2 separate regions of the Homo sapiens genome follow, and region 2 is linked to region 1. The links come from fine-mapping of genetic effects on plasma protein levels. A gene starts in region 1. The other region holds a variant in brackets. All regions are shown on one strand. Distances are from middle to middle. Region 1 holds the start of IL13RA1 (interleukin 13 receptor subunit alpha 1). Region 2 has its middle 15 kb from the start of ZCCHC12.

The links. PIP is the posterior inclusion probability: the model's chance that the variant is causal. Protein levels are from antibody-based Olink assays in UK Biobank. Linkage for the fine-mapping came from a reference panel and not from the study's own genotypes, which makes the PIPs less certain.
Region 2: its variant is fine-mapped to the plasma level of the IL13RA1 protein (UK Biobank, PIP above 0.99).

The regions. Positions count from the first base shown.
Region 1 is chrX:118,715,872-118,731,344 of GRCh38, reverse strand. IL13RA1 (interleukin 13 receptor subunit alpha 1) reads right to left here and starts at 3,739. Exons shown (of 11, transcript NM_001560.3): 1 at 3,619-3,739. The coding sequence starts at 3,706. RefSeq lists a silencer at 3,701-4,130.
Region 2 is chrX:118,801,031-118,816,503 of GRCh38, reverse strand. It overlaps a transcript of IL13RA1 not described here. Among named protein-coding and RNA genes, the nearest start is that of ZCCHC12, 15 kb to the left of the region's middle. The variant A/C (reference allele first, on the strand shown) is at 10,954.

The sequences.
Region 1 (15,473 bases):
TCGGCCTCCCAAAGTGCTGGGATTACAGGTGTGAACCACTGTGCCTGGCCAGGGTTGCTTTGGTTTTCTGTTGAATTGATATGTGTCCCTGGCCTTTGAGACAGAACAAGTATCCCTTCTACCTGATAAGCTTCCCTTAGGCACCTAATTTCAACCATGTCTTGGGGATTGCACCACTGACTTCAGAAAAGGGAGTAGGAAGGGACCCAAGTATGTCTGTATCTAAACCTCAAATCCCAAGTCTGTACAGTCATCTAGCACAACATCCTATTTAAATTAAGAGTTAACACAATCTACTATTTCATAAGAAGGCATTTTGCTTAGCTTATAGCTTTTGCTCTCGCCTGTCCAATCACAGCAGCTAGCAGAGGCATGCACATTTTGGGAAAAGTTAAGGAAATCACAAGAGTCATATATGAGTCATCTGTCCCTTCCCTTACATCCACTCAGGCATCAACTCCTGTTCGTTTTTTTCTTCCAACATCTTTCTTAGTTACCCCAATCATGCAAATATGCTCTGTTGTGCCCCACCAGGTGGGAAGATACCAGTAAGTCATGGTCCTGGACAGGAAGGGTTCGCAGCACATTTTTCTAGTGGAGACCTGCAACCATAGATTCTTATGTAGCTTCACACTCCAGGGGCTCCCCTACCCAGTGAAGTCTCCCTGCTTGCTTCCTCCTTCTGTGTTATTTTTCCCATGCTGTGCCGGACTCAGAGCTTTCAAGGGCAAATCAAGCTATTCTGCCTGGATTGACTTTACCAATGCACTCTCCTGCCAAGCCAGGTTCCTTCTTGACCACAAAGGAGCACTCTTGCCCTCATTTCTGGGTCTCTGCTCCTGCTATTGCCCCCACCTGGAATAAATTCTCCACCTACTCAAATCCCAGTCATCCAGAAGATCTAGCTCAAGTTTTACCTCTTCCATAACACTACCAACCGTCAGCTTTTTCTCTTTTGAATGCCTATAGTACTAGTTGTTTGGACCACACAGCCCAGCCACTATAAAGCCAGTCTCCAATGTAGTATCATTCGCTTCTTTTTTTGTTTTGAGACAGTCTTGCTCTGTCGCCCAGGCTGAAGTGCAGTGGCCTGATCTTCCCTCACTGCAACCTCTGCCTCCCAGGATCAAATGAGTCTCATGCCTCAGCTTCCTGAGTAGCTGGGATTACAGGCATGTAATCCCACACTCGGCTAATTTTTGTATTTTTAGTAGACGGGGTTTTGCCATGTTGGCCAGGCTCAAACTCCTGGCCTCAAGTGATCCATCTGCCTCAGTCTCCTAAAGTGCTGGGATTACAGGCATGAGCCACTGCACCCGGCCTAATATAGTATCATTAGCTTCTTAACAAATGGCTTGCACATACTTTCGTGGGTCCCAAGCCGTCCTGCCCTGCTACCCTGGGAGGTGTCCAGCTAAGGACTCTCGTCTTTTCTGCTGGGCAGAAGCAATGAGTACAGTGGTTAAGGGCATGGCCTCTGGAATCAGGCTGCCAGGGTTGGAAACCTAGCTCTTCCACTTTGCCAGGTATGCGAATTTGGGCAAGGGTCTTGGTCGCACTGTGCCTCAACTTTTTCGTGTACAAAATGGGACTAATAACAGCACCTACAAGTTATATTATTGGTAAAGATTAAATGAAATAGTACAAGTAAAGCAGCTAGAAAACTGCTGGGCATAAATGCTATATACATGCTAGTTATAATTAAGACATGCCACAATGTGGGCCATTGAGTGGGACAGGTTAAACTAAGCTAGTAATCTAATCACTTTTATAAACACTCTGAGGATTAGAGCTGGAGGAGCTCTTAGAATTTATGCAGTTCAACCTCCTCATTTCACAGATGAGAAAACTAACTGCAGCACAAAAGAGAGGAAATGACCAGCCCAGAGTCCCACAGGTGGTAAATATCAGAACCACTAAAACTCAAGTCTCACTGGAAACATCTAATTTTTTCCCACCATACCTCAATGCAATTCTATCAATACTTTTAATGGGGAAAGAAGTTTGTTTTCTAAATAAGCAAGCTAACGACAAACCATTGTGACAGGACTGATGAAGTTGGGAGTTGCCAGTATTCTCTAGATGGCCAGCTGTTGTTTCAGGTGTGTGTGGGAGTGAGTCTGTAGGAGGGAGGGTGCTGGAGTGGCACTGTGAAAATCAGGAGACTAATGAGACGGGTAACTTTAGACAAGTTCCTTCCCTTCTCTGGACTGCAATGTCCCCATATGATTACGGAAATCAGGTGTACCCAACTAAACTAGAGGCCCTTTTGGGGCAAGAATTTTGCTATACACTCTCAGGTTCTAAGTCAACCTAGAGGGCCTGACTCAGTACTAAATAAGGCAGACACCTGAATAATTATTGACTGACAAGCTTCAAGTCTCCCTCAGGTCTCTACTCAAATGCCACCTTTCAGCAACATTTGTTTTCTTCTCGATCCACCCTTTTTACAATGGCAAACCCCTTCCCACCTGCTCTGTTTTTCTCTACTTAACACCCTCAGACATATCATATATTTTACCCCCACCCCCCGATATGTCTGAGGGCAGGCACCTCATCTGTTTTGCTCACTGCTGCATCCTCAGCCCCTAAACACTGCCTGGCAGCATGTATTTTATTGACTGAATCCATAGAGGGCATTAAGGTTTCCTAATCAACATTTCAACTTGGATTTCAAAGCACATTGGTAAAAATGCAATAAGCATATATAAGTGTTTGTGTCAATGTGATAATAAAACCTATACAGTTTGGGGCTTTCATTGTCACCAAAAACGTCCAGAAGGCCATTCCTTCCAGGAGCTGCTCCTAAGGAAGTCATTAACTCCCAATTTTTCACAACTGCCAGGTTGATTAACTAGAAGTTACCAAACAGGGTGAGGGATATACACAACTCTCTGAAGTATCTTTGCAACTTTTCCATAAATCTACAATTACCCTAAAATATAAGGTTTATTAAAGAGAGTGGGGTGGGGGGAGCATCTGCCGGGATGCTATTCTGGATTTCCCAAAGGATTTCTTCGACGCCAGAGGAGGTCATGAGCGTCACGTCCTTTTTCAACAAGGACTGAGATGTTTAGAGGTTCCCTTCAACTTCCACTCGCAAGAGCCACCCTTAGACAGTGAGGATTGGCGCGGCCTCGGGCAAAGAGCCCCGGCGCGTTCTCAGCTCGCCTGGACTTCGGTCGTGGTCCCCGCCGGCTCTGGCGCCTCATTTCCTCCCGGGCTCACAGGCGACATTCCGGGCGCTGACCCACGGCCCTCTGACGCCGTGGGCATGTTTCGGGCCCCCCGCCCCCGCACGCCTGGACGCCAGCCTCCTGGGCTCTTCCCACTACAAGTCGCAGCCCTCTTACTTCGCTGCCGCCACCTCCGCCGCACCCGGAGTTCGGGAAAACCCCGCAGCTCCCGGGTCCCACCTCGAACCGGCCCCAGTACCGGGCCCCAGAGATCCCGCGCGGGAAGCCGCAGCCGCCGAGCGCGGGGCCTCGCGAGGGCAGCCCCCAGCACCCACCCCAGCTTCGGCCCTCCGCCCGGCGTTGACCTCCGGGGCCTTTCAGCCGTGACCCTCACCGCCCTCAGCCCTCCGGCCGCCCCTCGGGCCCCGAGGGTCGCACTCACCCGTAGGCGCGGCGCCCCCGCCCCCGCCCCCGCCGCCGGCGCAGAGCAGCAGCGCCCACAGCCCGCAGAGCCGCGCCGGCCACTCCATGCAGCCTCTCGCCTCGGAGCCCGGCCGGGCTGGAGCCTTGGCAGTCCCCGCCTCCTTCGCTCCCTCTTCCACTTCCCGGCTCCGCCGCCCTGGAGGCTGGGGGCCGGCGCAGACGGGAAGGGCCGCCCCGCCCACCGGCCTCAGGTAACCTGAGCCGGCGAGAGCGGCCGGAGGAGGCGGGGCGGGGCGCCGGCGGCTCTGGCGGCTCTGGCGGCTCCTACGGCTCCCAAGGCTGGACACCTGGCCCACCCGCAGCTCCCGCGTCCGGTCTCTGACCGAACAAAACTTCTTCCACCACGTCGCCGCCCACTCCGGGCGCTGCCTGGGCCTCCTCCCTCCGCGTGGCGGAGCCGGCGTCGCCGCTGCCAGCACACTTGCGGGGCCTCGGAGGTGCTAGGGGCTGTGCCCTGCTGGACACCAGGACAGAGTCATCTGCGGAAAAGAGCCTTGGCCTGGGAGTCTGGAGACCTGGCTTCCAGCCCTTGACCTCTGAGCCCTTGTTTGCTAGCGCTGACTCCAGGGTTAGTAATACCAGCCCTACTTCACTGGGTGGAGTTGGGGACACTGGCAGTACTGTGCTTTGTGAAAAGGACAAAGGGCATATTTGAAAGCTGGCAATACATAATGTTGATTTTAAAAGGAACATTCCAAACATGAGGGAGGATACCATACGTGCATTTTTTAAAGCACACGACAAACTTTCTACATATTTTTCAAAGGGATGGGAGGTGAATCGGAAGAATACACATTGATACTTGGGCGCCTATGAGGGTCAGTGAGGCTGGGAGGAAGGAAAACAAGAGTCCTTAGGCGTTTCCTGTTGCTGCTGTCAAAAATGACCACAAATTTAGTGATTTAACAGTTTTATTTTATTACAGTTCTGGAGGTCAGAAGTGACACTGAGCTTAAATCAAGGTGTGGGCAGAGATGTATTCCTTCTGGATATTCTAGGGGAGAATCTGTGTCTTTGACTTTTCCAGCTTCTAGAGGCTACCCACATTCCTTGGCTTGTTGCGGAACTACTCAGACCTCTGCTTCCCTTGTCGTATCTGACTCTGACCCTCTTACTTCCCCTTTTCCCTTATAAATACCCTTGTGATTAGATTAGGTCCACCAGATAATTCATAATAATCTCCCCATCTCAAAATCCTTGATTTAATCATAACTGAAAAGTCATTTTTGCTATGTAAGTTAACATATTCACAGGTGTTGGGGATCACGATATGGAATCATGGGAGGGGGACATTATTCTATCACCTTCTCCCAAAAAAGAATCATGTCTAGGTGGATGATGAGACCCATAATGAGGTGTATTTTGGCCGAATTAAGCCAATGCATATACCTGAAAACAGTTACAAAAAGTATAGCAATAAAAATGCTGATAATATACCTAGTCTAGACCCCACCCAAAGGGCACAGGGTTGTTTAACCTATTCACAACAAAGGTTCCACTCTTGGAATTAAGGCTCTCAAACTCAATAAATATTTATGAAATTGTTCCAGGAACTGTTGAAGACACTCACCAAAAGCAAGCTCTGCTAACAGAAAGCTGCAGTCAGTCTGAGGGGCAATGATAAGGGCAAGAACAAGGAATTATGGGATACAAAAAGGGTACCTTTTGGGAGGGAAGGAGCAAGGGAAGCTTCCAGGAGGAGGGCCTGCCTGTGCTGAATCTCAGGATGTTGATTCTTTTGGCTAACGGTTCAGAATAAATTCCAGAATCCAGGCATGGTGGCATGCACCTGTAATCCCAGCTATTCTGGAGGCTGAGGTGGAAGGATCACCTGAGCCCAGGAGTTCAAAACCAGCCTGGGTCTGTAACAGAGTGAGACCCCGTTCTCAAAAAAAAAAAAAATAAATCCTGGCTTGCATGTGTTATCGAACAAAATAATGTTTATGAAAACAGTTTGTAAAGTATCAAGGCCTGTAGAACTGAGAGATAGTATCATTATTTCTAAATCCCTCCCACAAATAGGTCAGCCACTGTGTATCCCAAGGCCTTTCCTCCACCACCACGGACATATACACTTGTTGACATTTGCTATAAACATTATACAATAAGTTTATAATAACGTTTCCAAAATGGTTATGTCATCTGCCTTTTAAGGAGTCTTTAGTTGGAACAGGAGCCCCTGGGGACTGGCTGAGTGCCATCATGGGCACTGCTTGGCATAGATTGACCAAGCGCTTAATAAAACAGTAATGGTAGCAAATGATTAGAAAAATAGGGATTGCAGCTTGTCATGAGCTTCCAGAAAAGCCCTGAGAATCTGAACATCGTGAGGAAAAAAAACAAACGGCAGTGTGGAGAGGGGAGAGACCTGATTTCTTTTCACCAAGATAGTTCCGGCCTGCTGGCCTTAAGACTATATTGTTACTTTCCTTTCTTCCCGACCCTGAACATCATGCAACGATTTTTCAAATTTTTGGAAGGGGGTGGAAAGAGTCAGGAATGCTGTTTCTTCAACATAAAACTTGTATTTGTAATCTCCGTGTAGTGTGATTCGAAGAGCGTCTTGGATTGAATCAGGCCACTGCCCTGGTCTGCAGGAAGAATGAAGACAGATAGAAGGCTTTCCAGGAACTGCAGTAGACAAGGAGCTTTCAGTTTGGCTTTGTGTAAATCAAAATCATGATGAGTCAACATCAAGTTTAACCCTTAGAGTCCTGATGACTTGGGTGCGAGACTACCAGTGGCCTTTCTTTCACTTTGGCCCGGGGTGGCTGGAGTTCTGCGCTGCCCTGTGTACCTAGGCCACTCCACTCAACTGTTTTGACCTTTGCCCTTCTCACTAAGTCTTCGTCCATTTCTGTAACTGGAGGCTGAAAAGGGCATATGCAAGAAAATGTCTGGCAGGAAAGAATGATGTCCCTCTTTCCAAAGTCAGGTGTCCTTCCATCCATTTAGAGACACCTTCCTGAGTCCAAAAGGGACACAGACACCAGCATATTCCAAGGGCTTAGCTAAAAGTGCTGGTCCCTTAGACAAAAATCTCACAAAGAGTCCTCTAAGCAAAACCTCACACCACTGCAAAACAAAGAAAAAGGAGAAGTTGAAAACAGGGAATTTCCCTCCCGATTCTGGATCAGTGGCCCCCAACCAGGGGCAATTTTACATCCCAGGGGACATTCGGCAATATGGAGAGATATTTTTGGTTGTCATGACTGAAGCGGGGGCATGCTTCTGGAATGCAGTGAGTAGAGGCTGGGGATGCTGCTGTTAATACAATGCACACGACCGCCCCCACAACAAAGACTTACTCTACTCAAGATGACAACAGCGCCAAAGGTGAGAGAGATCCTAAGCTAGAATACTCTTTGTTGTCTTTTGTATTTGGTCCCCACCCACCCACTGTCCCCCATGCCTGGCCAAAATTAGAGATGAATGCTAAAAGTATGTACTCTTGACAACTCCCTTTCCTGTATCTCGTACCCCCAGTTCCCCATCCACTGTCTAGTCCTGCAGTCACTGATTAGATGGTAAAACATCTCTCAGATCTATTCCTCCCCCGACCACCCAGTTTCGCCTCTATGGTTCTATTTCAGGACTTTATTACCATTCCAGAAACAGTCTTCAAACTGGCCATGAGGGTCTACCCTTTACAAGACAGATCTTCCCAATGAGCAATCTGTCCATGTCACTCCTCAGCTTAAGCTTAAGTGACACCCCTCCCTTCATCAAATGCCACAAAAGGCAGTCTCAACTCCTCTGCCTGCAGGCTTGCCTCTTCAGGTTAGATTCCCCACACTCTTCCTAGCTTCACTTCCAGCCAAGCTTCCAGGTTCCAGGTGGCTGACTGGCCACCTTCAGGCTGAATCTCCCTTGTGAGCAATTGTGTTTGGTCCATATCATGTTGGAATTCATGGGGATCTAGATGCCAAAGTGTTTTTTTTAAGTCAGGAGATTTTGCCTAAGGCCCCAGATTTCCAGCTTCTCTTAATAAATCAAAAGTCCTGGTAATATTGGACCTGTTTCAGTGTAGAAACCGTCAGCAGATGTCAGATGGGCTGCCACCTTGTTAACAGGGCATGTACTTCCTGTCTGCACATGCCCTAGGGCTCCCTATTGCTCCCTGGCCTAGTCAGCGTTTCCTCACTTATGACTTGCCCGGTTCTTGTTTGTCACCTGTGATATTTTCTCACTGCAAACCTTTTATCTTGCTGTTCCCTTTATCTAAAATGCTTTTCCATTTCTCAAGTGTCACATTTTTTAGGGGCTTCTCTAACTCCCAAATGCAAAATTCTTTGCTCCCTCCTGTGTGTGTGCTCATAGCACCAGACACGTTCCTCTATCATATCAAATCACACAGAGGTTTGTGTGCATGTCTATTTCTGCCACTGGATTCAAGCTCCTGGAGGTCAGACTGTCCAGGGTGACTCCAGGTTTTCTACCTAGGAGGAGCTTAGTGGTGGTAATCTGATTGGAAGGAACAATCCCCAGGGGCCTTGTCTTGGAGCCATGTATGTACAGCAAGAGCTCTACTCTTACTTAGATTCTGAGTGGATTGAGTCGGGGGAGCTTGGAGAAAGGCATCCTCTGGCACCACAGAGAATATAAAGATGAATGGAACATGGTTAGTGGCTCATAACTCATTCTCAATGTTTGGGTTTAATTGAATTAAAGGTCCTTGCTCTTCAGCAGGTGGTTTTCTTCTACAGTTTTAGTGGAGTTCACTCAAGGGAGTGTTGCTTGCACAAGAGGCCACTGACAGGACCCTTTGGGTTTTGCCTGAGAGTAGGCACGCTTCTAGGTGACTGGGTCAGTGTCCTGAAACCCGTAGACCTGTGGGCCTCCAAACTTTACAGCAGGTTTTTTTTTTTTTTTTTTTTTTTTTTTAAGATGGAGTCTCGCTCTGTTGCCCAGACTGGACTGCAGTGCAATCTCAGCTCGCTGCAACCTCCACCTCCTGGGTTCAAGAGATTCTCCTGCCTCAGCCTCCCAAGTAGCTGGGATTACAGGCACATGCCACCATGCCCAGCTAATCTGTGTATTTTTAGTAGAGATGGGGATTCGCCATGTTGGCTAGGCTAGTCTCAAACTCCTGACCTCAGGTGATCCGCCCGCCTTGGCCTCCCAAAGTGCTGGGATTACAGGCGTGAGCCACTGCACCCAGCCTACAGCAGTTATTAAATTGACTCTTTAATTCAACAAGGCACTCCCTTTACCCAGAAATCTCCAATGCTAAAGTCCTCAAGATGGCTTCCAAGGCCTTACCCTATCTGACCCCATTATCTCTCTAACCTTCTCTCCTACTGCTCTCCTTGGCTCCCTTACTCTCCTCCAGCAACACTGACCACCTGGCTGTTCTTCACACAAGCTAAGTGCACTCCTGCCCGAGGGCCTTTGCCTTGACTTTTTCTTTGGCTATTTGCTCTCTCCCCGTCAAGATATCCTCATGCCTCACTCCCTGGCTTCTGTCAGATCTCTCACTGAGACCTGTCCTGGCCACCCCATTGAAAACTGCAAGCCCCATGGCCACTTCCTTTCTCTCCTTCCGCTTCCTGGGTCATTTGCTGTCTCCACTAGAATGTAAGCTCCATCAGGGCAAGAAGTTTTTTCTGATCGGTTCCCAGCTGGATCCCCAGCACTCAAAACTATATGTGGCACATAATACATGCTCAATAAATATATTTTAATTGAATAAATAAATTGTACATTTTTCTAGGTGCTGTGAGGAATACCAACCAACAAACCAAAGGCCTGCTCTTAGGAAACTCCTGGTCTAAGTTGTGGAAAGGTATAGAGAGCAATTAGAGAAAATGTAAAAAGCAAACAAACAAAAATGGTACAAATGCTCATCTGTGATATGGGTTCAAAGAAAGGTGACACAGGCCTGTGCTTTTGAAGGTTTCGTACAGTAGATGGGAGTTGAACTAGACCTTGAAGGATGACCAGAATGAGAGAGGGAGGTTAGGAGGAGAGAGAGAGAGAGAGAGAGAGAGCAGTCAGTTTATGGCTTGACCTCATAAGCAATAAGAAGTCACAGCAGGCTTTTTACAAACAAGATGCTGACATAATACGTGGTGTTTTGCTTTCTAAGATGAATTACCAAGAGTTTGTTAATTCTTGTCTGGAGGTAAGAAGGCCCAGGAAAGAATATTTGAGGTGTTGGCAGCCAGGGACAGGGCCAGCCTCCAGGCAAACTGCTGGCTCCATCAGTCAGAGCCCAGGTGCCAGGAGGCTGATTCTTCCCTGGGCAAAATGACTTGGGGTGCTGCTCTACACAGGAGCATGTTCCTGGGGCCTGGAGCCCCTACGCTCTCTTGCTCCCCTTGAAAGCATTCATTATTCCTTTCAGAAGCTCCCTGGCCTCACTTCCTCCAGGCTGCCAACCCTTCCTCTCTGGAATTGGCCTTGCTCTGTTTTCCAACACTTCAGTCTCTGAAAGAGGAAGGGCCTCTGTGTCTTAGCATCCAGGTCCCCTCCTTTGGCTTCTGGCTGCGTTGCTATCATCACTGCCACTACCACTACCCTGGCATCTTAGCCAGGATCCCCTACAACCTTTTCACTGCACTTTCCCCACCCTGGATCTAAAACTCTATGTAGGGCCTGTCCCCTGTTCTGGTCCAGGCAGGACAGGTCCAATCCTTGTACACTTTACCAGCCCCGTTAGTGCTTTGCCACTCAGTTCCCTGGCGTTAGGATCTCTCCTCGGCCTTAGGGTTCCTCAGTTTAAACATTCACACTTTGGGAGGCTGGGGCAGACAGATCACTTGAGCACAGGAGTTCCAGACCAGCCTGGGCAACATGGCCAGACTCCATGTCTACAAAAAATACCAAAAAAAATAATAATAATTAGTCAGGAACTGTAACATATGCTGTAGTCCCAGCTACTCTGGAGGCTGAGGCTGGAGGATGGCTTGAGCCCAGGAGGTGATTGTAGTGAGCCGAGATCACGCCACTACACTCCAACCTGGGCGACAGAGCAGGATTGTCTCAAAAAAAAAAGAAAGAAAGAAAGATTCAAATGCTCCATTTGTGTGTTAGTCACCTGCACCTTCTTGCCTTGAAAGGTCTCCATTGTTTGCTTTGAAAGTGTAGGGCAATTAGTATTTTCATTTAAACAAAGAAGCCTCTAGTCCCTCTTGCCCCAATCCACAACACCTCTCCAAGGAGGGGGCTCTTTGCATATCTGTAACTCCACCCCATTAATGCTGTCATTTGCATATCCCAATAGCATCCCCAGAGGTCACTCTGCATATCTAGCTATTGGACAGATCCCTGTGCAAGCACAGAATTGAGGCCTCATTTGTGGATTGGAAAATACCAGGCTTCTGGAGGAGCAGCAAAACCCACCCCAGTTCAGTCCCTGCATAAACCCATCTTTCCCATAGTCGTTGACCTGGACTGCCTTTTCCGACCCTCAGTCATAGAGCAAGTTGACTGCAGTGTGACCTCATTGGCATCCCTGGTGCTATGCTGCACCAGCCTTGCTACTTCTCAGCCACAGAAGCAAGGACCCCTCCTTAACTTCTTATTCCCAGTTTCCAGGATGGTACCAATCTTTGCGAGTGTGATGAGGTTTGCTTTATGTCACAACATATAGTTTGTTTTTGTAAATGTTCCATGAGTGTTTGAGGAAAATGCATATTCTCCAATTACTGGGCCCAGTGTTCTATACGTTCCATTAAGTCAAGTTTGTGGATTGTGTTGGTCAAATCAACATACTTGCTGGTTTTTTGTTCCTTTGGACCTGCTAATTACTGAGGGTGTTAACGATTCTCACTATGATATTATGAGGGTGCATTTGTCAAATTCTTCTTATAATTCTGTTAATTATTGCTTTATATATCTTTTTCGACGCTATTTCATCAAATACACGCAAATCTAGAATTGTTATAGTTTCCTCGTGAACCAAACCACTTATCACTATGAAGTACCTTTCATTAATGAAGTACTATTCTTTGTCTTAAAAGTGTATTTTGACTAATTTATTATAACTTCATTAACTTTCTTTTGTTTAGTATGTACCTGGTACATTTTCTTACATCCTTATTTTCCTTTCAGTGCAATTATGTTTTGGGTCTGATCTTGGGAACAGCATAAAGTGCAAATTCGGTTTTTTCTATCCAATAGGCAATTGTTGTCTTTTAACTGTAGACTTTAGTTCACTTAGATTTACTTCTTTCTTTTTTCTTAATTTAGTAGAGATGGGGGGGTCTCCCTACGTGGCCCAGGCTGGTCTTGAACTCCTGAGCTCAAGTGATCCTCCCACCTTGGTCTGCCAAAGTGCTGAGATTACAGGCATAAGCCACCACACCCAGCCAGACTTCTAATATATTTATACTTATATCTACCATCTGATTCTGTGCTTTCTATTTGTCCCATTTTTCTGTTTCTTTTTATCTTCTTTCTAGAATTGTGTTAAATGTTGTGGGCATTTTTTTTTTTTGGCCTTTTTAAATAACAAGAGCATGTTTTATCTTTTGTAAACCAGGCATAATGCTATAATAGTGCCTACCACAGGGTTTATTGTAACGATTAAATGAGATGAAGAAACTGACATAAAATGCTTATCCAGTGCCTAGCACATAATAAGCACTAATAAATGGGAACTATTATTAGAATTTCTAGTACTCTTTCATCTTTACAGTTCCCTTGTCTCTTGAGGTTCCGCTTCTGTTGTTCTCCTTTCTGCTGACATTGTCCCATTTGTTCTTAGTCCTTTTTCTTTCATTTCTCCTTTATTGCCACTCAATTTCCTGTTTCCTCTTACCCTTTCATCCCCAGGCAAGCTACATGCACAAGCTGCAATGATGAAGCCCTTTTGGGGAAGAGAGTCAATGTAAAGGGGCTTGGTGGCACAGCAGGGACAGGATCAGGGAGGAGTGCCTTGTCTACTGATCCCCACTCCACAAGCTGGCAAAGGTACACATAGCCAACGCTGGGCACCACTCCTGGCTGGCCATGGTGGAATTAGATCAGCTGGGATCACCGGTTTTTGTGAATGAGTTTAAAGGCCATAGCGTTCACCAACTAGGATACAGTTGAATTCCTTAGCACCTTCATGTATGAAGGATAGCTGGATCCTCACTCTCCACTCTCAAGAAGTAGGGCCGGGCACGGTGGCTCATGCCTGTAATCCCAGCACTTTGGGAGGCCGAGGCGGGCGGATCACCTAAGGTCAGAGTTCGAGACCAGCCTGGCCAACATGGTGAAACCCTGCCTCTATTAAAAATACAAAATTAGCCGGGCGTGGTGGCGCATGCCTGTAATCCAAGCTATTCGGGAGGCTGAGACAGGAGAATCGCTTGAACCCAGGAGGCGGAGGTTGCAGTGAGCCGAGATCGCACCATTGCACTCCAATCTGGACAACAAGAGCAAAACTCCGTCTCAAAAAAAAAAAAAAAGAAGGAGCCCCGCTGTGGGGGAGTGGGTCTCACCTCACTAGGAATTTGTGTATGCACAGGCCAGAGCCTGGAAAGAGGAACCATTTGTACTCAAACACATTGTGGTCAGAGGAAAATTTTGTCATCATTGTTGTGACAGAGCCGCAACTAAATTTAACAAGCTGTGTATTTTTGTTTCCTTCATGATGCATGGAGAAAGCAAAACATTTTGTTTCCAAAAAAGCAAAAACTCTTCAAACAAAACAAAACGACAACAAAAAGCCTTCTTCTAATTTGGTATTTGATTGCTGTAGAGATTCCTTTCTCTAGTTGCTTTAGATTTTGCTTTTTCATGTCCTTTGTAGCATGACGTACTTTCAAGATTCATTGTGTCACTGGAGGAACATTGGCACTTGGTGGAGTTTTGGGTGCTTTTCTGTTTTCTGGTGGTTTCCACACTTGGATTGAAATAAACAGAGGTGCCGAACTTCCATATTTCAATCGAGTCTCACGACAACTTGAGAGTCCAATATTTTGATGACAACTCAGCATGTGCTATCATTCTTCACGGTAAATTTTAAATAGACACTGTTGGTAATTTTTGAAATTTCTTTATTACAAAACTACAATGTCAACTTACAAGGTAGATGAAATGCAATATATTTCTGACTGCTTGCATCTACAATAACAAAATGCCTCTATATTATTCAGAAGTTCTAAAAAACAAACTATATATAATCTATCGTATCTATCTTTATCAAAGACAATGATACTGCGAGCATAGAAACAGGAGCAATTTGGTATTGACAGGTGACAGCATGCTGGCAGTCCTCAGAGCCCTCGCTTGCTCTCAGCGCCTCCTCTGCCTGGGTTCCCACTTTGGCGGCACTTGAGGAGCCCTTCGGCCCGCCGCTGCACTGTGGGATCCCCTTTCTGGGCTGGCCAAGGCCAGAGCCCGCTCCCTCAGCTTGCGGGGAGGTGTGGAGGGAGAGGCGTGAGCAGGAACCAGGGCTGCGCACAGCGCTTGCGGGCCAGCTGGAGTTCCGGGTGGGCGTGGGCTTGGAGGGCCCCGCACTACGAGCGGCCGGCCGGCCGGCCAGCCGGCCCCGGGCAGTGAGGGGCTTAGCACCCAGGCCAGCGGCTGCGGAGGGTGTACTGGGTCCCCCAGCAGTGCCAGCCCACGGGCGCTGTGCTCGATTTCTCGCTGGGCCTTAGCTGCCTTCCCACGGGGCAGGCCTCGGGACCTGCAGCCCGCCATGCCTGAGCCTTCCCCCGCCTCCGTGGGTTCCTGTGCAGCCCGAGCCTCCCCGACGAATGCCACCCCCTGCTCCACGGCGCCCAGTCCCATCGACTGCCCAAGGGCTGAGGAGGGCCAGCGCATGGCGTGGGACTGGCAGGCAGCTCCACCTGCAGCCCCAGTGCGGGATCCACTGGGTGAAGCCAGCTGGGCTCCTGAGTCTGGTGGGGACGTGGAGAGTGTTTATATCTAGCTCAGGGATTGTAAACACACCAATCAGCACCCTGTGTCTAGCTCAGGGTTTGTGAGTGCACCAATGGACACCATGTATCTAGCTGCTCCAGTGGGGCCTTGGAGAACCTTTATGTTTAGCTCAGGGATTGTAAACACACCAATCAGCACCCTGTGTCTAGCTCAGGGTTTGTGAGTGCACCAATCGACACTCTGTATCTAGCTGCTCTGGTGGGGCCTTGGAGAACCTTTATGTCTAGCTCAGGGATTGTAAATACACCAATCGGCACTCTGTATCTAGCTCAAGGTTTTGTAAACACACCAATCAGCACCCTGTGTTTAGCTCAAGGTTTTTGTGAGTGCACCAATCGACACTCTGTATCTAGCTGCTCTGGTGGGGCCTTGGAGAACCTTTGTGTGGATACTCTGTATCTAACTAATCTGATGGGGACCTGGAGAACCTTTGTATCTAGCTCAGGGATTGTAAATGCACCAATCAGCACCCTGTCAAAACAGGCCACTGGGCTCTACCAATCAGCAGGATGTGGGTGGGGCCAGATAAGAGAATAAAAGCAGGCTGTCCAAGCCAGTAGTGGCAACGCGCTCCGGTCCCCTTCCACACTGTGGAAGCTTTGTTCTTTGACTCTTTGCAATAAATCTTGCTACTGCTCACTCTTTGGGTCCACACTGCTTTTATGAGCCGTAACACTCACCGCGAAGATTTGCAGCTTCTCTTCTGGAGCCAGCAAGACCACAAGCTCACCAGGAGGAACGAACAACTCCAGACACGCTGCCTTAAGAGCTGTAACACTCACCGCGAAGGTCTGCAGCTTCACTCCTGAGCCAGGGAGACCACGAACCCACCAGAAGGAAGAAACTCGGAACACATTTGAACATCAGAAGGGACAGACTCCAGACGCGCCACCTTAAGAGCTGTAACACTCACCGCGAGGGTCCGCGGCTTCATTC
Region 2 (15,473 bases), 85 kb before region 1:
TTATGGTCAGTTAATTTTTGACAAGGATGACAAGACCATTCAATGGGGAAACAAAAGTCTGTTCAACAAATGGTGCAGGGACAAATGGATGTCACAAGCAAAGAATGAATTTGGACTACCACCTCACACCATGTACAAAAATTAACTCAAAATGAATCATAGACCTAAGTATAAAAGCTAAAATTATAAAAACTCTAAGAAGTCATAGAAGTAAATGTTTGTGTCTTTGAGTTAGGCAAAGCATTCTTAGATATGACACCAAAGTATAAGCAACAACAACAACAACAACAAACAGAAAAACTAGACTTCATCAAAATTTAATTTTTTTTTTTTTTTTGAGACAGAGTCTCACTCTGTTGCCCAGGCTGGAGTGCAGTGGCACGATCTCGGCTCACAAAATTTAAAATTTTTGTGCATCAAAAGACACTGTCAGGGCCGGGCATGGTGGCTCACACTTGTAATCCCAGCAATTTGGGAGGCCAAGGGTGTGGATTGCTTGAGCTCACGAGTTCAAGACCAGCCTGGCCAACATGGTGAAACCCGTCTCTACAAAAAATACAAAAATTAGCCAGCACGGTGGCATGTGCTTGTAATCCCAGCTACTCGGGAGGCTGAGGTAGGAGGATGGCTTGAGCCTGAGAGGCAGAGGTTGCAGTGAGCCAAGATCACGCCACTGCACTCCAGCTTGGGCAACAAAGCCAGACCTAGTTTAAAAAAAAAAAAAAAAAGACACTGTCAGGAAGGGGAAAAGACAATCCACAGAATGAAAGAAAGTATAGGGAAATTATATATCTGATGAAGGATCTTTATCTAGTATATATAGTTTTACAACTCAACAATAAAAAGACAACTTAATTTTAAAATGGACAAAGGATCTGAGTAAACATTTCTCCAGGGAATATATATGATATACAAATGGCCAATGAAAAGATGCTCAACATTATTTGGTCATCAGGGAAATGCAAACGAAAACCACAATTGGATACCATTTTATACCTACTAGGATGGCTATAATTAAAAAGACAGATAATAACAAGTGTTAGCAAGGATATGGAGAAATTGGAATCCTGAAATATTGCTCACAGGAATGTAAAATGGTGCAGTCACTTTGGAAAATAGTTTGGAAATTTCCTCAAAAGGTTAAATATAGAATTACTATATGACCCAGCAATTCTATTCCCAGGTGAATACCCAAAAGAAATGAAAACCTATGTCCATACAAAAACTTTTTTTTTTTTTGAGATTGCGTCTCGCTCTGTCGCCCAGGCTGGAGTACAGTGGCGTGATCTCGGCTCACTGCAAGCTCCGCCTCCCGGATTCACGCCATTCTCCTGCCTCAGCCTCCTGAGTAGCTGGGACTACAGGTGCCTGCCACCACGCCCAGCTAATTTTTTGTATTTTTTAGTAGAGACAGGGTTTCACCGTGTTAGCCAGGATGGTCTCAATCTCCTGACCTCGTGATCTGCCCGCCTTGGCCTCCCAAAGTGCTGGGATTACAGGCGTGAGCCACTGTGCCCGGCCACAAAAACTTGTATACTAATGTGCATAGTGTCATTATTAATAACCGAAAAGGGGAAACCACTCAAATGTCCATCAATTAATGAATGGATAAAAGGAAAGAAGTGCTTTTACATGCTACATCATGGGTGAACCCTGGAAACACTATGCTAAGTGAAAGATGGCCACACAAAAGGCCACATATTGTATGATTCTGTTTATATGAAATATTCAGAAGAGACAAATCCACATAGATAGAAAGTAGATTAGAGGTTGCCAGGGGTTGGGGGTAGGAAGGAAAAGGGAGTGACTGCTAATAGGTACAGGGTTTCTTTCTGTGGTGATGATAATGTTCTAAAATTGATTGTGATGATGGTCATGTAACTGAATATATTTAAAAACCATTGAATTGTACACTTTCAAAGGATGAATTTTAAAGATGTACACTATATCACAATAAAGATTTTTTTAGAAAAAGAATATTTACGGTGTGGATCCATTTATATAAAGTTCAAACAAAGGTGAGCCTAAACTATATTGCTTAGACTTGCATACAGAGATGATCAAAAACTAAAAGAAAGCATGGAACTATTCCTATAAAAGTCAGGCTAGTGGTTCCGCCTGGGGGTGAGAGAAGAGCTTTGATTAAAAAGAGAACCACAGAGGGCTTCTGTGGCATCCTAGTGTTTGATTTCTGATCTTTCTTGGTGGTTACATGGGTATTTCTTTTCTAACGATTTGTTAAAAATCTACATACATGTTTTATGCACATTTCTGTATATCTGTTCTATTTTCAATAAACTGTTAACATTAAACTCATTCACCTGAGTGTATGTGGACTACACTGAATTGTTAAAATATTGGACTGAGCCAGGCTATTGATTCCAGATATTTCAAGAAAAGGGTTCCTAAATTAAGTGTCCGTAAGATTAAAAGAGGGAATAGGAGTGGAGAGAGTGTTGGATAGAGTAAAAAGATTTGACTTTCCTAAAAGACGTGCTTCTTTGGTTCCTGTGCAAAGCACTAAAGATAGGGAAATAGTGGTAAAGCATGCAGGCTCTACAGCAAAACCAAATAGGTTCTGCATCTACCACTTAAGTTTTAGTTTCACAATCCTTCTGGGCCTCAGTTTCCATATCTGTAAGTGGAGATTATAATATCATCTAGCTAAAATGTTACTGTGCATATTAAAGAAGATTATCCTTGTAATACCTTGTGAATATTTTTTTTAGATAAGGGAACTCACTGTTGCCCAGGCTGAAGTGCAGTGGCCATTCACTGTACTCATCATAGCTCACTGTGGCCTCCAACTCCTGGCTTCAAGCAATCCTCCCACCTCAGCTTCCCGAGTAGCTGGGACTATAGGTGCCTACCACCACACCCAGCTGAGTATGTTTTTTGACATGTAAGTGCTTTATAATTGGCATCTGTTATTATTTCTTTCTAAAGCTCGTTATGAGATACATTAATTCTGAGTCCCTGTTGTATGTCTGTTATTGTCCTATTTTCCATTTATTCTAGATACCATACATGAAAATAATACAATTGCATTTTTTTTGAGACAAGGTCTCACTCTGTTGCCCAGACAGGAGTGCAGTGGCGTGATCTCAGCTCACTACAACCTCCGTCTGCCAGGCTCAACTAATTATCCTGCCTCAGTCTCCCGACTACCTGGGATAACAGGCGTGCACCACTACCGCCTGGCTAATTTTTGTATTTTTAGTAGAGTTGGGGTTTCACCATGTTGGCCAGGCTGGTCTTAAACTCCTGACCTCAAATGATCCACCCCGCTTGGCCTCCCAAAGTGCTGGGATTACAGGCATGGTATGTGTAATTGAAACTGACACTCGGAGAGGTTAAGTAAGAAGCCTGGAGTCACACAGCTTTAAGAGGTGGCGTAATGTTTTGAAAACAGATCCGTCTAATTCCAAAGCCTTTGCACTTTCCACGTTTTCTTGGAGTTGAATATAACCATCATTCAGTGGGAAATTCAAATGATGTTTAACCAAATACTGTTTTATTAAGCTATTTATATGACTTAATAGGAGAAAACATGTCCAAAAGCCTGAGAGCTTTGTGTACTGGGAAAGTTTATATAGTGCCAATGTAACATTTCAGAGCAGACGTAAATCTCTTGCGTTCTCTAAATAACACCTGGTAAAGAGATGTTCTTAGAAGTTGCTTAAGTTGCAATGATCTGGCGGGTTTTAAAGTCTGGCCAAACCTAAGGAATATAGCAGTAGGATTTCCAGGTCACAGGAAGTGTATTACCAGCAGGAGAGCACACGCCACCAAATCTGAGGGAGTGCAGAGTCAAACTCCTAATGGGGAACCTGGCATCCAAAACTGTTATTTTGTTAATTCCTCTAATTCTGCCCCAGTTATCTGAACACAGGAGAGTGCCCTCCCAAAGCACCACCATAGAGGGGCCCAGCAAAAAGTCCAACCAATTCTGCATAGCTGCAACACCTCAGAAAATGTAGGCCAGCCTGCTGGTCTGGATTGACTGAAATGACTGAGACCCAAGTAGCCCTTTGGGAAATCATGGTAAAATCATGGTGCTGGGTGCTTCAGAAATCCTTGCTGACTGATCAGCTGGACTGCTGTGGCAGAGACAAGATCTAGAGCAAGTGGGGGAGGAGGGTGGGGTCCAGAGGCAGAAGTCAGGCTGGAAAGCCCTGGGGGCCCACTGGCAAGAGGGAGACTGGCAAGAGGTAGATCAGGATGGTGGCCGTTCCGAATGTGTGTGTGGTGAAGGGAGCATTAAACTACAACCTGGGGCCTGGGTTCTATCGCTCTTGAGTTAATTAATTAATCTCTGGATATATCAGTTCCCCCACCCATAAAATGAAAATAATAATAGGACCTATCTCATTGTATTGTCATGAGGAACAGATGAAATCATGGACATGAAAGCACTGTGAAAACTCTCATGGTATATAGAAATATGAAGCTAAGTGTTCACTTGTTTTGTTTCCTTGTGTAGCCCCAGCACCTGGACAGTGTCTGTCATATAGCAAGTACTCAATAAACATTCATTGAATGAATAATATTGCACTAGAGTTCGAGTACTGACTGTTTAGAATACTAGGTGATCATCACAAGCAAAACTATGAGATGGGTGAAAGTAAGTTCTCGGCTGGGTGCGGTGGCTCATGCCTGTAATCCCAACACTTTGGGAGGCCAAGGTGCCAGGATTGTTTGAGTCCAGGAGATCAAGACCAGCCTGGGAAACATATGGAGATCCCATTTCTACAAATAATAAAAAATTAGCCAGGCATGGTGATGTGGACCTGTGGTCCCAGCTACTCGAGAGGCTGAGGTGGGAGGATCATTTGAGCCCAGGAAGTGGAGGCTGCAGTGAGCCGAGATCATATCACTGCATTCCAGCCTCGGCGACAGAGCAAGACCCCATCTCAAAAAAAAAAAGAAAAAAAAGCAAGTTCTTGCATCCTTCCATTTGGAGCCCTGTCCCCTGTCCCTTGACAGTGCCCTGGAGGTATTAAATATCCAGCATCCTCAGCCACCTCATTTTTCTTCACTCAGCCCACCTTGGTATCAGTGATGAAAAGAATGATAGCTGCCATTTGTTGGAGGCATATTATGTTCTAAGTGCTAAGCTTCACATGCACATTCTCAGCTTGATCTTCAAATCCACCCCCACATTTAATGGCTATTTTTCTTGGGAAAAAAAATACATGCTGATGACTCTAAAGCTCAGTTTTCTCATCTAGGTTGCAAGGCAAATCCTGTTACAGAAACTGACATGATTCCTGTTGGAGTTTCTGTTCCCAGGACTCATCTGGGCTCAACTCAGGCCCAGGCTTGAAATTGTGTGGCAAGGGACCCAACTGCCATAGCCATGCCATCAGACATAGCTATGATTGATGGGGGACAAGGGTCTCAATCTGCGTGAAGGCACCAAGGCTCTGCTATCCTCTTTCACAACTACATGGCTAGGAAACAGCAGCTGTCATTCAAGCCCAGGCAATCTCTCTTCAATACTTTGTGACACTTAAGGAAGCAGATGGAACAACTTGACAAATGGAACAGCTTGTCCAAAGCTGCTCACCTGGGCTCACAAATCCTTCCCCTCAGCCAAGAGATTTTTCATAAAGGAATGCTAATCTCTTTGGCACACTGCCCTTTGCACCCCTACAACCTTAAATGCTGGGTCCACTTAGCAGGTTCAGAACGTTCTGGCAGGCTCTCTCATACCATCCCACCCTCCCTGATTCTTATGTCATAGCCCTATCAGAGTTAGAAATAATACAATTACTTGTAGAATAATTTGATTACCTTTGGACTCCACCAAGTGCCCCTGAATTCCATGAGAGCCAGGTAGAATTGACTTTCTTCTCCACCACTTCCACAGTGCCCAGCTCTGGGCATAGTACAAAGCAAGTGCTCAATCAATATTTATCAAAGAATAAATGAATGAGTGAAGAGTAAGCAAATAAGTGAGATGGAAATGTAGAACAGAATAAATGTGGTAATTGCTCTCAAACCTTTGAAGAGCTTTGCTATGGAAGAGAGAGGATTTTTACTATCTTTTTTTTTTTTTTTGGTGAGAAAGAGTCTCGCTCAGTCGCCCAGGCTGGAGTGCAGTGGTGCCACCTTGGCTCACTGCAACCTCCACCTACAGGGTTCAAGCGATTCTCCTGCCTCAGCCTCCCGAGTAGCTGGGACTATGGGTGTGCACCACCAGACCGAGCTAATTTTTGTATTTTTAGTAGAGATGGGGTTTAGCTATGTTGGCCAGGCTGGTCTCAAACTCCTGGCCTCAAGTGATCCACCCACCCCAGCCTCCCAAAGTACTGGGATTACAGGCGTGAGCCACCATGCCCAGCCCAGGATTTTTATTAACTTTTTATTTAGAAATAATTTAAAAATTACAGAAGAGTTGTAAAAGTAGAACAAATAATTCCCATACACCATCTATGCAGATCCCACCAATTTTAAATATTTTGGCAATTTGTTTTTATCACTCTCTCTCATTACTTACATATTAATGTTCTTTTTTTTTAGGAACTATTTGCAGGCAGGTCACATGCATCATGCCATTTTACTCCCTAATGCTTCAATGCATATTTCCCAGGGACACAGCCATTCTTATAGAAGACCATTACCAAAATTAGGACACTTGATAGTTGATGCAATATTGTAATCTATGTCCTTACTCAATTTTGCCAATTTTGAGTGAGGACTTTTTTTGTTCTGTTTGGTTCTCCAGGGCATAAGGAAGATTAATGGGAAGATACATGATAAAAATGACTTTTTACTCTGGAATTTGAAGATAGATCCAGAAAATTAGAACTATCAATAAATAAAATGGCCTTTCTCCATAAATAGGGCACTCCCTGTTGCTGCAGGGATTTAGGCAGAGACTAGACGATTACCTGTTAGGAACGAGGGAGGGGATATCTCTTATGAATATGAACTACAGAATAAGCTTTTGTGTGTACTTCTGCAGGCCAGGTGAATTATATGCTATGTACTGGGCTTGATTCTCTTTTTTTCACTTATCATTTCTCATGTCGGGGCTGGTCCTTGCGTAGCTGAAGTAACCAACCATGGCATGGGGTTGAAGCAACCTCAACGTTCCATCAACCTGGAAATATTTTCCCCTGACACCTTCTACAAACAGGTCAGCCCTGGAATAATAATATTAACATGTATTATGCACTTACAATGAGCAGGGCAATGGTGTGCTTTGTAAGTGTCAACTCATTAAGTCTCCAAAAGCCGTAAGATGTAGCTATTACTATACTATAATCCCTATTTTACCAATGAGGCATCTGAAGCTCAGGTGGGTTTTGGTATCTTGATTTGGTTCAGGTCTGATGTGTTAAAAGATTTCAGAAATTATGATCAAGTTGTTCAAATAAGTGTATATGGAGATTTTTAAAAAGCAGTTCGGCTGGGCACAGCAGCTCACGCCTGTAATCCTAGCAATTTTGGAGGCTGAGGCAGGCAGATCACTTGACCCCAGGAGTTCAAGACCAGTCTGGACAACATGGCAAAATCCTGTATCTACTAAAAATACAAAAAAAAAAATTAGTTGGTGTGGTGGTGTACACCTGTAGTCCCAGCTCCTCAGGAGGTTGAGGTGTGAGGATTGCTTGAGCCCAGGAATTGAAGGCTGCAGTGAGGTGTGATCACATTACTGCACCACAGCCTGAGCAACAGAGCAAGACCCTGTCTCAAAAAATAAAAAATCGGTTCAATTATTTAAATGAAAAATAAAAATGAAAAGAAATAAACCAAAAGATAGTATTTCAAGACTTCAAGAACATTAGTATTTCTTTGTCTGTTTATACCTATTCCTATTTTCATTAGGGCAGTCTAATTTGGAGGAGTTTTAGGGGGGGTTCTTTATTTCTACATTTCCTGATTTTCTAGTTGTTGTAATTGTTATTTTTTAGACATGTTTTCACTGTAGTTGACATGCTAATTCAGAATGAAAGATCTTCCTAGAGACTGTCCTATGTAAAGCAATTGAATCTCCCTGCTGTATTACCACTGTAGAAGACAGAGGAACAAGGAGGATGGCCCCTTCTTTCCCAGTCTTATAGGTTTCATAGTTTTCAGAACAGTTAATTTCTGGCTAATTCCTACCAATCCTTAAAATTTCAGCTTAAATGTCACATCCTCAGAAAAGTTTTTGCTACCCTGCAAGACTAGGTCAGAATCCCCTGTTACCTGTTCTCACAGCCTCATCGACCTTTTCTTCATCTCACCTCACTACATCTCACTGCATCATTGACCTTTCCTTCATAGCAATTATCACATTTAAAATGATTGTTTTGTCTTTACAGTTAGACTGTAATACAGGTTTCTGAGGGGACCCATCTATTTTTGCTCCCAAATGTATCCTAGTACCTGACACACTGTGGCCACTCAATAAATGTTTGTTGAATGAAAAATGAGTAAATGAAAATCCAGTTCCACTTAGGAAAAAGATGCTAGCAAAAGAAAACATAGAAGAGTAAATTGTGCCCCTGGAGGCAAAAATTCAGTATTCTAGTATCAAAGGTCAGAACCAGGCAGTGATGAAGTCAAAATGAGGGGATTTGGGAGATCCGGCAGAGGGTGGTTCAGGCAAGAACTTTGGTCAGTTGCTAGAGCACAGTAGCAGCAGCAGCATGGAGTATCTCAATCCAGTGCTAGGATGCTGTAGCTGACTGAAAGTATTCTGCTTTCAGGGGTTCAGTCCTTCTGGAAATATGCTACAGAACATGTGCACCCATGGTTTCCTTCATTGGGGACAGAGAAGTAGAACTAGGCAGAAAAGAATTTAAGGAAGAACTATAAAAGGCTTTTGAGAGGAAGGGTCTTGCTGGTTCCAAAATAATGTCCTCTCTCATTAAGTGGCTTTCACAAAGCTGCCATTACAATTTCTACATGCAGCCCCCAGATGGCAGCAGTGTGTTACTCTTGGGCTGCCAAGTTCGTGATGAAGTCTCTGCTTTGACATCTAACCTACCATGCCATGACTGCCCCCAGAGCTAGCTTAGATTTGGGTTGTCCTCACACTGTGCTGAGAGGGCTTGCAATGTGTCTTATTTTGGGAATGACCTCATTGGTCTTTCCCTGGCAGCTGGCTCCCATAACCCTGACTCTTGAAGCTGCCCTCCTCTCATTGCCATCCGTGAGTGTCCCCAACCCTGTAGGAAATCATAACCTAATGGTTCCTCTAGCATACTACAGTGAACATGTCCAAAATGAAATTCGTATTTCTCATCTACTCCCCATTCCCCACCCAAGCCTGTGCTTCTCTATAACATTTTGAGCATCTCCCTCCCATTCATGGAGTCCTGGTGAGTCAACCTCTAAACTACTTCAGATCTGTGTCCTCCTCTCCTGTTTGCCAGGCATGGAGCGGATCCTCTCCACCTCTTGCCTAATCCCTAGGTCATCTGCTTATCTCTGTCATCTTTCTCTCACAATCCATCCTTCCACTCTACTCAAACTCCTTCTGAGGACAGGGATGCCCCCTTTTGTTAATCTCTTCAGATTCTACTCTTGCTTTAATGTGCAGACCAACTAGCACTGCCCTCAAAAAACTTTTCTGGGTATCCTCCCAGCCCCGACACCCCCATCATTTTTTCCACTGCCTGTATACAGCACTTTACTTGGACCTCCTTTCATAACTCTAATTGCTAATATTCTGTCTTGTTGATAATCCATTATTTATATACATAAATATGTCACTCTAGCCCTTAGCCAAGGTGGCAACCATGTGGCACAAGTACATCAACACCCCCCCACCAGTACCCAACAAGAGACATCACTGATAGATCTTAGCCATCTTCCCACTGAGCCCAAACCCAATCTCAAAATCCTTCGGGAAACAGTATTCCAGAAGAACTGATCCACAAAATGAAACAAATTTGCCATTCCTGCACTGGACTATCAGCAATAATAGGACAGAAAGTATGCACTGCACCTGTAGTCCCAGCTACTTGGCAGGCAAGAGGATCACCTGAGCCCAGGAGTTTGAGACTAGCCTGGGCAAAATAGTGAGACACCATCTCAATTTTTTAAAAAAGAAAAGAAAGCATGCTCTATTCTTTGAATCTACTACAGCATCTCGTACACGATCTATATTCGTCAAAAGCCTTCTTGAATGAATTAATAAAAGCACAAAGTGGAATAGCATAGACACTGATCATAGGAATGCTGCTCCCAGACTCCATGTTTCAATACTGCTGCTATGAATATGGGTGTGCAAATATCCCAAGACCCTGCTTTTAATGCTTTTGCATAAATACCCAGAAGTGGGATTGCTGAGTCATATGGTAGATCTATTTCTTTTTCTTTTTTCTTTTTTTTTTCTTTTTTTCTTTTTTTTTTTTGAGACGGAGTTTCACTCTTGTTGCCCAGGCTGGAGTGCAATGGCACGATCTCAGCTCACCGCAACCTCTGCCTCCCAGGTTCAAGCAATTCTCCTGCCTCAGCCTCCCGAGTAGCTGGGATTACAGGTGCCCACCACTACGCCCGGCTAATTTTTGTATTTTTAGTAGAGACGGGGTTTCTCCATGTTGGTCAGGCTGGTCTGGAACTCCCAACCTCAGTTGATCTGCCCACCTCGGCCTCCCAACGTGCTGGGACTACAGGCGTAAGCCACCGCACCCAGCCTAGGTAGATCTATTTCTAACTTTTTGAAGAACTACCATTCTGTTTTCCATGGCTGTTGCACCATTTCACAATCCCACAAATAGCACACAAGGATTCTCATTTCCCCACATCCACACCAACACTTTCTATTTTATGGGTTTTTTTTTATAGTGGCCATTCTAATGAGCGTGAGGTGATATTCATTCACTTTTATTGCTAAGTAGTATTCCATGATGTGACTGTACCAAAAATTGTTCAACCATTCACCCACCCATTGAAGGATATCTGAGTTTTTCTAGTTTTTGTAAATTATGAATAAAACCATTATAAACATTT[A/C]TGTAAAGTTTGTTGTGTGAACATATGTTTTTATTTTTCTGGGATAGAGGCCCAACAGTACAATTGCTGGACCATGTGATAGTTGCATGTTTCGTTTTTAAACAAACTGCCACTCTTTCTCAGAGTAGCTGTACCATTTTATGTACCCACAAGAAATATATGAGTGATATGATTTCTTTGCATCCTTACTATTATTGAGGTGTTGTCATTATTTTTATTTTAGCCATTCTGAGAGGTCTGTAGTAATGTTACCAAAACAGCAGGAGTTCCATCTAGGTCCTGTTTTCTCACTGCACAGAAAGGCAAACACTGAGACAATGAGTATTGCCAAGGAAGAAGGCTTTAATCAGGTGCAGCAGCCAAGGAGACAAGAGATCAGTCTCAATTCCATCTCCCTGACCAACTAAAATTAGGTGTTTGTATAGCAGGGAAGAAGTGAAACCATGTGTGGGAAAACAGGAATTAGGGAGGGATAAGGAAGAGGAGTTGGTCAACAGGAAGCAGTTGGTTTGTCAGCCAATCAAGAAGGGTGAGGGATCTGGCTTCTCACTGTCCGGATGTGGTGATTTGGTGATTTTCAGATCCCGGATACTTTCTGGGAGGCCTGATGGTTTGTTTCCTGAGAAAGGAATTCAGATAAGACAAATGTAACTTTCTCAAGTTTTAAGACTGGAAGGATCAATTTCTATGTTTATTCAAAGAGATCAGAAACATCAGCTCTGTGGGACAATTGGGTTGGTTTCATAGTCACATGGTCTGTATATTTCCCAGTGGTATTCAAGCCAGCAACTTATAGAAAACTGCATGATCAAGTGTAAACTCAGCAGATTTACAAAGCACACACTTGACCACAGATAATTTTTCTCAACCTAACATTCAGACCCATAAGCCTATTTTTCCACCTTGCTTTAAAATTTTCAGTGCATTGTAAAATATCAGAAAAGGATTGCCCCATATTGGTCTTAATTAATCCATGCTGAAGTACTCTCTTTTAGTATCACATTTCCAATTTGTTTATATTGGTCCTTATCATGTGGGAAAAAATTACACAACACAGATATGCTCTGTACTACCATTTGCAAAAACATTCCGTAGACATATTAGAAGTTGGCATTTGTGTGTGTGTGTGTGTGTGTGTGTGTGTGTGTGTGTGTGTATGCATGGCTGTGTTTTTTTTCTGTTTTAAGGAAGACTATGTCTTGGTTGTGTGAGAACTTCTAAGCTTCAAGGCCAAACTTCAGTTTTCACTTCCTTCACAGATGTCTGACTACGCTTATAAAGAATTTCCAGAATTTGTTGGGCACTGTGGCTGACGCCTGTAATCCCAGCACTTTGGGAGGCTGATGCAAGTGGATCACTTGAGGTCAGGAGTTCGAGACCAGCCTGGCTAACGCGGTGAAACCCCGTCTCTACTAAAAATACAAAAATTAGCCAGGCGTGGTGGCGGGCGCCTGTAATCCCAGCTACTTGAGAGGTTGAGGCAGGAGAATCACTTGAACCCAGGAGGCAGAGGTTGCAGCGAGCCGAGATCGCACCATTGCACTCCAGCCTGGGCAACAAGAGCAAAACTCTGTCAAAAAAAAAAAAAGAAAGAAAGAAAGAAAGAAAAAAGAAAAAAAAGAGAGAGAGGAAGGAAGGAAGGAAGGAAGGAAGGAAGGAAGGAAGGAAGGAAGGAAGGAAGGAAGGAAGGAAGGAAAAGAGAAAACAAGAAGAATTTCCAGAATCCAATGGGATGCTAAACAAATTTTTAGTCAAAGCAATCTGGAAGGGAAAAAGAGCTACTTTGTGGCAGCAGGGCTGTATTCATTCCTAAATGCCAATGTAGTACGATTTTAAAGGCCAAACAATCATTTGTTCCCAAATTCTCACCCCTGTATATTACAAAGCATCATTATTTAAAAAATCACCGTGAGCCTTATTGGATCCTGATTCAAGCAAATTGTAGGAAAAAAAGACTTATGAGACAATTGGGGAAATGTAAACACTGACTAGATAATTGAGAATATTAAGCAATTATTGTTTAGTTTTAAAGTGTGATAATGGTATTGCAGTTTTTTAAAACAAAAAGGGTCCTTAGTTTGTAGAGATATATACTAAAGTATTTACAGATGAAATGATGTGATGTCTGGGACTTGCTTAAAAATAATTCGTCATGTAGGAAGTAGGAAATGGGTGGCAGTATAAATGAAATAAGATTGACCATTTTGATAATTGTTGAAGCTAGTTGATGGGTATATGACCATTCACTGTAACAGTCTCCTTACTTCTATATATGTTTGAACTTTCCCATAATATTTTTTTAATCCACCATAAAAGTGGTAGCATGGTTTGGGGAGGCTCCTTGTAATATGAATTTTATCCAGAAATGGTAACCCACAAACTTCTTAGCCCTCCTTGGCTACATTAGCAAAGATGAATTGATCAAACATCTTATGAGGCAGAGGCCACAAGGAACAGGAAATGAGGCAGGACAAGTCTGAAAAGAGGAAGTTAAGAAAGGCTTGGAACATGGACTCTTGCCAGAGTGGACAAGCTATTGCCAACCACTGAACGAAAGGGTTTGAAGTGTAGCAGCTGGAGAGAGGATGCTAAAAGAAAGTAGTAGCCTCCTTAGGGGGAAGGTGTCTTGTATATGCATGTTGGTGGGGGATAGTGGGGTGGAGCTTGAATGTTCAAGGCTGTAAAACAAACTCACCCTTTGATTAGAGCTATCTTTGTCTCCCTTTGGAAACATCATGAAAATAAGACATGTAGAACTGATTCTTAATCCAAATCTCAAGTCAAACAATAACTCAGAATAATTTTCTGTTTTTTCCCCCATTTTCAAATCTACAAGTCTTAGGTCAGCTGCTTGTTTTCTATAGCTGTTTCCATTATTTTCCCAAAACAATCAAAAGTTACTATTTTATTGATTGCGAATGTTAGACCTAAAGGAGCCCTTGTAGATCACTTACTCCTTTTTTTTCACAAGTGAGCAAACTGAAGCTCAGAGAAAGAAAGAAACTTGCCCTGCATCATACAGTACCTAGCTAGCACAGTGCTGGCACATGGTAGACACTCAATAAATATCTGTTGAATCCAGGGTTGATACATAACCTACCAAGTAATTATAGCCAGCATCTGACCTGACTGGTTGGTGCCCATGTCACATAGCTTTAACATCGCCCCCCAACTGAACAGATGAAGGAATGAAAATAAAGTAGTAAAGCCAGATTGTTCTTGACTTGCAGACATTCTTTTTCTGTAATTCTAGTTCTAGTCTTCATGGGGCCCTAAGTGGGCAGGCAGGGCCACCTTTGGCTGCAAAGCTTACAGAGAATCCAGGCCTCCTCTGGACTCGATGTTTGTTAATTGTCCATTAGCCTCCTCAGTGCTCCTAGGTACTGGCCAGCCTTATTTGGGGCTGCATAGCAGGCAGAGTGTACGGCAACCCTCACATGTTAAAGGTTTGATCTGCACTCTCATCCTAACAAAGTAATTAATTGGGGCTCCAAACTACCTATTTCACTGTCAGGGAGTGGATACCCAGCATTATTTTTCCAGTTCTCATCTACCCCAGGGATGAGGGGAGAGTGGAAAAAAGAAAAGAAAAAAGAAAAAAAATACTTTTAAGTGTTTGTAGAAGCATAAATAAGAATTAATGTTGCTAACTGGATTTATACCATAGAATTTTTTTCTAAAAACAGTATAATTGGAAAATGCCATGTCATTACAAATTCACTACAATGAAGGCAAATATTATAGTATGATATTGTAAACCAAGATTGTCATTTTCACATGAGGAGGGACAAGAAATTGGTTCCAGAATAACAGTATGTGCAACCACAACTACCATTTATTAAAGTTCACTGTGCTAAGCATTTTACATTTTATTTCACTGACACCTCACAGCAACGCTAGGTGGTAGGTCCTTTTATCAGCATTTTACAGATGAGGACTGAGCCTCAGGTAGATCAAGTTAAGAAAATCTCCCAAAAAGCAGAACCAAAAGACAAATAAAGGGAACATGGGAGAAAAAAGATACGAAAATTACAGAATCAGTCCAGGATGTCCAATGTACAACTAATAGGAATCCTAGAGATAAAGAAAACACAAGGGAAGCTATTGTGTGAGAAATAATAGAAAGCAATGTCTTAAAAATGAAGCATGAGATTTTAGATTGAAAGGGCTCACAAAGTCCAGCCCAGTAAATGGAAGAAGATCCACAATAAGGCATATCATTAAAATTTAAAACACCAAGAGAAAAGAGGCCAAGAGAAAACCTTGCAGATAAAAGTTACATGTAGAAAATTAGAAATCAGACATTTCTAAAGCAACACTAGAAGCAACAACACATCGGAATAATGCTTTCAACATTCTCAGAGGAAATTGTTTCCAATTAGTAATTCTTCACCTAGTAAAAATTTTAATCATGTGTGAAGATTATATTTAGACAAAAAATGATTTTACAAAAATCATCTTGGCTGGGAGCAATGGCTCATGCCTGTAATCTCAGCACTTTGGGAGGCCATAGTGGGAGG